Linked DNA regions of Homo sapiens: region 1 is linked to region 2. Evidence: fine-mapped expression QTL. A gene starts in region 2. The other region holds a variant in brackets. All regions are shown on one strand. Distances are from middle to middle.

Region 1 (2,902 bases), 35 kb after region 2:
TTCTTCTTGCAGCTGATGTGGTGAAAAAAACAGGTCAGTTGTCCTGAAGATTATCCTTTTTTGGTCTGTTAAGTGTGTGTTGATCTAGAACAAGGGTTGGCAAACTTTTGCTCTGAAGGGCCAAATAATAAATGGTTTAGACTTTGCAGGCCATATGGTCTCTATCATAACTACTTGGAAGTAACTTTGTTTTAGTGCAAAAACAGACAACATGTAAGTGAATGAAGTGTAGTGTTCTATTAGTAAAACTTTATTTGCAAAAATTTATTTGCCAGGCCTGGCGGCTCACGTCTGTAATCCCAGCACTTTGGGAGGCTGAGGTGGGTGGATCGCTTAAGCTCCGGAGTTTGAGACCAGCCTGGGCAACTCTGTCTCTACAAAAATTAGCCGGGCATGGTGGTGCGTGGCTGTGGTCTCAGCTACTTGGCAGGCTGGGGTGGGAGGATTGCTTGAGCCTGGGAGATTACGGTGGCAGTGAGCTGGACTCCAGCCTGGGCTGGACAGAGTGAGACCCTGTCTCAAAAACAAAAACAAAAACACAACAGGCAGCAACCTTACCATCAGCTGTGTAATCAGCTGTAGTTTGCTGCTTTCCTATCTAGAATAATCTCCCTCGTTTTATTTTTCTTCTTTCTTTTTTTTTTTTCTTGAGACAGAGTCTCGCTGTGTCACCCAGGCTGAAGTGCCGTGGCGCGATCTTGGCTCACTGCAACCTCCGCCTTCCGGATTCAAGTGATTCTCCTGCCTCAACCTCCCAACTAGCTGGGACTACAGCTGCCCGCCACCACACCCGGCTAATCTTTGTACTTTTGGTAGAGACTGGGTTTCACTATGTTGGCCAGGCTGGTCTTGAACTCCTTACCTTGTGATCCGTGAAAGTGCTGGGATTACAGGCGTGAGCCACCGTTCCCAGCCTGCTTTCTTTTTCTTCTTGACATTTGAAAACAAAAACAAAAACAAAAAACAGGTCAGTCATCCTGTAGAATATCCTGCCTTCTGGGCTCGTCTCATTGCTTTCTCATGGAGTCATTAAATTTGTTCCCCTCTCCTCTGTGTTTTTAGCAAATGAGAAGTTGAAGTTAGAGGCTGGTTTAGATTCCAGGTTAAACCTTTTTGGCAGGAATCCCTTGTCAGTGATGCTGTGACTTTGGGCTGCCTTACTTCAGGAGGCATCAGTGTGACAGGCTGTCCTGCAGAGAGTAGAGAGATAGACCAGTGTGTGACTGGGAGAAGTCACATACCTCCATTGCAAACTTGTGCCATTCCTCTTAAACACCAGGTCCTCGGCCAGGCATGGTGGCTCACACCTGTAATCCCAACACTTTGGGAGGCCGAAGTGAG[C/T]GGATTGCTTGAGGTCAGGAGTTCGAGACCAGCCTGGCCAACATGGTGAAACCCTGTCTCTACTAAAAATACAAAAATTAGCTAGGCGTGGTGGCGGGCGCCTGTAGTCCCAGCTACTCGGGATGCTGAGGTGGGAGAGTCGCTCGAACCCAGGAGGCAGATGTTGCAGTTAGCCGAGATCGTGCCATTGCATCCCAGCCTGGGTGACAAGAGTGAAACTCCGTCTCAGAAAAAAAAAAAAAACAAAAACCATACCAGGTCCTCTGTCAGTGACGCTTGGGCGCCTGTGAGTATCTGCTTCCTGTCAACCTTCCCCTCTGGTTTAGCATCCACTGGTTCTTGTTGCCTCCAGCATTTGTTCCTTTAGGGGTTGCAGAATGACTTAGCATTTGGTCATTTCTTTGTTATTTATTAGCAAGAATTCTTTCCGAAAGAAGAGCTTTCCATCAACCACCAGGGCAATTTGGTTACAAGAAAGGCCAAGAGACAGGCTGAATTCTTCCTCTTTAATCCTCAGCTTTCAGAGTAAAGAGGGCACTGCTACCGTCAGTGGTGACAAATGAGGGCTTTTGAGGGCTTGGGTTTGTTTGTTTTGCTTTCTCTCTTCTTTTCTAATAATCTCTGTGAATGCACTGCTTTTATGTGTTCCATCTGTTTCCATCAGTTGCACTCATTATTCTTTTTGATGCTCAGATGGTCCCAGCTCGGCCCATTGGAGGCTTCCTGGGGCGCCTCTCACTGCCCCTGTGCTGAGGCTGCCGTTGGGGAGCTGAGGCGGAGGCAGGCCTGAGACTCAGGGCAGGGTCTGAATGGGGTTCAGGTGGGGGCACACCCCCTCCACAGGCATCTGTTTTGCATATGGCCCTGACCGATCACCAGGAGGGAAAGCTCTAAGGGCACGCTTACTTTATGTGGTCCCCTGTTCTTGCCCACCATCGAGCACCCTGTTGCCTCTGACCGCACCCAGCTGCATTGCTTGTGTGACCTGAATAAGGTAGCTCCAGGCCCAGCCTTTGGGGTCAGCAGCACCAGAACTGGTCCCTGGAAAATACCAATAAAGTCCTCCTTTCCAGGCTGCCCCTCCTGCCAGTCTCTGGGGGTGCTGGGGATAGGAGTCCTATGCTGTTGCTTTGGCACCTAGAAGCTGCAGCTCAGCACATGCTGGCAGGACCCTGAGTCACTGGGGTATCAGGAAGGGGTGAGGGCTCTTGGTGAATGTGGGCAGTCGGTAGAGGGTGGGCAGAAGCCCCCGTGCTAGAGAGTACAGGCACCACTTGGGCTGCTGAGAGCGGTAGGGGTTTGAGTCCTTCCTAAAGGGAGCTCCTCTGGTGTCCCTGAGCCATGGGTCCATGAGTGGCCCTGACCCCTGCCCTCCCCACTCCCTATCCTTCAGGCTCCCGCTGGTGTCCCTGGAGCATGGGAGGCTGCTGAGCGTGAGTGGCGGTGTCTGGCAGGAGCTGCGTGGCAGGGAGGGCGTCCATGGCTGCAGCCAACAAGGGTAAGTGCCTTCCTGGCGTGGTAGGACTTGCACAAGCTCTTCCGGTGGGCCCTGGTAGGAGGG
Region 2 (2,902 bases):
AGCGTCTTCTCTTCGTTGACTGGTTTAGGAAAGGTCCTCTCAGGAGCAGGGCAAGGTGAGCCCAGGGTGTGAGCAAGGCTGCCTGGCTGGAGGCCAGCCTAAGGGTTGGTGGTCTAGCAGAGCCGCCCCAGAGAGCCTTCCCCTAAACTGTCAGACCCCCACCTTTCCAGGACCCTTCCTGAAGGATGGACCAAGACCAGGTTCTCCTACTGGAACAACCCAGCTCTCCCCTTGCAGACTTAGGGAGCAGGATCAGTGTTTAATTAATTGTCTTAATTCTGGGGGCAGAACTGGGGTGGAGGGAGCAGGGGCATGGATGTGTGAGTGCTCCACGGCTCTGCCACCCTTAAGTTCCCTCTCCAGGCTTGAGATTCCCATCCTGGGGCAAAATGGTGGCTATCCGGGCAGAGATTACGGAGGCAGCGTGGTGGAGGCACAATGAGGGAGGAGGGAGTGAGGGGAAAGAAGATTTGGAGAGGCTTGTGCAGACTGAGAGCAGGTCACCTGGAGGTGTGGGGGGCACAGCCCAGGTCTCACTTCCCATGTCCTGGGCCCCTAGGAGGGAACAAGGGCGTACCTCTCCACTGCTCAGGATGCCTCCCCGGACTCCACCTCCTGGATTCGACTACCATGCCCAGTTCTCCAGGAGGCCCAGGACTCCAGACCTAGCCTCTCACCCCCATATGCAGCCTCCTTGGGGTGTCCTACCTGCCGAGCCCGGCGAGGTCGTGCATGGTCTGGGTGAGGGTGGTGACCGGCGAGGAAGCGGCCGCCCGCACCGGGGACCCCAGGAGGCCATGAGATCCCAGCAGGAGGCCCGGGAGGTGGCCCGGACGCTGGGCGCCACCGCACACGCCTGCTGGACTGAGAGCCGAGCCTGGCGCGGGCTCCGGCTGGGGCACCTCCATCGCGGCGGGGCCGGCAGAAGGCTGGCTGGAGGGCCGGGCGCAGGGCAGCCAACAAACGCCGGCACAGCTGGCTGGGCCGAGGGAGGCAGCGGGCGAGGGGTGGGGGGGGGGGGAAGGAGGGAGGGAGGAAGAGCCACAGGGCCAGGCGCGAGGGAGGAGAGGGATGCGGGGAGGGCGGGGGGCGAGGGACGCCGGGCTCAGGCACCAGCCAGGGAAGCCTCTAGTTGCAGCTGCCACTTCCACCTCCTTATATATTCGAAAAATAACAGCAGCCGCGCCGCCGGACGCCACCAATGGGGTAGCGGGTTAGATGAGGGCGGGACTGAGGGCGGGGCCCGCAGGGCAAGAGGCGCGGAGGCTGGATTTCCAGGCTTTGGGTGGGCCGGAGGAATTAAGATTTATCCCACACCCTCGCACATCCCCCTGGCGCGAGGATCCCGGCCTCCCAAAATCCGCCTCTCGCGACATGGTTTGGAGCTCCACACTCCCAAAGGCAGCAGCAACGCCCTAGGGTGGCCTCCGCAGGACCCCCCGCGGCATGTCGTCACCTGGGATCACCGCTAGGGATGGGGAGAGGCTCCAACTGGCTCCCGGAAGTTTGCTAAACCCAGCTGGGCTGTACGGTCTGCGTTAGACACCCCATTTTACAGACCTGGACGCTGAGGCGTGAAGTTCATTAACTCAATCAAGGTCACGCGGTTGGGCAGGCGGTGGGCCAGGATTCGCTCGCTCCAGGCGCCTCTGACCGCGCAGCCTCCCCGCCTCCGCGACTGGCTGCGCTGAGCAGCAGCAAAACGTCATTCGCAGGAGAAGCGCCCAGCGTAGGAGGTGGGAGGGCAGTGGGGCCCCCAAGCGGAACTGATGGGCTCTTTCGCGGGACCCCAGGTTAGATGTTACCCCAACCGGCCCAATTTTCGCGGCAGCCCCAGGAGAGGCTCTAAACGGTGGAACTAGGAATGGATTTCCGCGGCTGGGGGTCGAGGAGGGTGTCAGCAACCAGAGAGGCGAATTAAGTATCACGCCCATTGATGATTTGGCTAACTTGGTGCCAATGGCACCATATTATTTAATTGGTGTTTCTTTGATGACCAGACCAGGGAGGCTGAATTTGTCATTCGTTTTAAGCGGAGCAGCTTCCAATTATCTTTCTTTTTGTTTTGTTTTGTTTTTTTTGGGATGGAGTCTCCCTCTGTCAACCCGGCTGGAGTGCAGTGGCCATCTCTGCTCACTACAACCTCCGCCACCCGGGTTCCAGCGATTCTTCTGCCTCAGCCTCCCGAGTAGCTGAGACTACAGGAGCGCGCCACCACGCCCAGCTAATGTTTGTATTTTTAGTAGAGACGGGGGTTTCACCATATTGGCCAGGCTGGTCTCGAACTCCTGACCTCGTGATCCACCCACCTAGGCCTCCCAAAGTGCTGGGATTACACGCACGAGCCACTGTGCCCGGCCCATCTTCCAATTATCTAAATGCCTTCCAGCCCCGCTCGTTTTCCAGGCCTCCTGGAACAAGAGGCCTGAAGGCTGCACCCAAAAGCCGGTGGGTAGTGAGCAGCTTTCGCATCCTGTCTCCCCAGGTTAGAAGTGGCCTCTGGCTGGGCGGGTGGTGGTGCGGGGGGCGGGCTGCAGCTCAGCAAGGCAGGAGTACCCCTTCTCGTGCAGTCCCAGCCACCCAGACCCAAGGTGCATTGGATGGGGGTGGCAAAAGGGAGGGCCTGGTGATGGGGGGCTGGGTGGGCCAATGCATCTGAAGGGTAGGGGAAGACCCCAGCCCCACCTGAGAGGGGTGGCCAAGGTGGGAACGTGACCTTTCCTTTTCTCCAAATTTTGCCCAGCTCCTGTGCTGTGCAGAGGGCTCTGCAAGACTGAATTTCCGGTTCATCCTCCCTGGGTCAGGGGTTATGCCCTGGACCTCCAGCCACTACTTCCAGTGAGGATGTGACTGCCCTTAGTGCCAGGAGGGAAGGGGGAAGTGTCCTTGTAAAGCCACCCAG

The links. PIP is the estimated chance that this variant, and not a neighbour inherited with it, causes the effect. A credible set is the group of variants that fine-mapping cannot tell apart.
Region 1: its variant is the best candidate, but not a certain one, in a credible set for the expression of CDC25B in adrenal gland (GTEx, PIP 0.77).

What each region holds. Positions count from the first base shown.
Region 1 is chr20:3,760,019-3,762,920 of GRCh38, reverse strand. It overlaps ADISSP (adipose secreted signaling protein), which reads left to right. Exons shown (of 6, transcript NM_001258429.2): 2 at 2,735-2,839. The coding sequence starts at 2,821. Among named protein-coding and RNA genes, the nearest start is that of ADISSP, 6.3 kb to the left of the region's middle. The variant C/T (reference allele first, on the strand shown) is at 1,342.
Region 2 is chr20:3,794,538-3,797,439 of GRCh38, reverse strand. CDC25B (cell division cycle 25B) reads right to left here and starts at 1,130. Exons shown (of 16, transcript NM_021873.4): 1 at 709-1,130. The coding sequence starts at 908. RefSeq lists silencers at 539-746, 813-992, 1,033-1,102 and enhancers at 1,333-1,492, 1,403-2,134.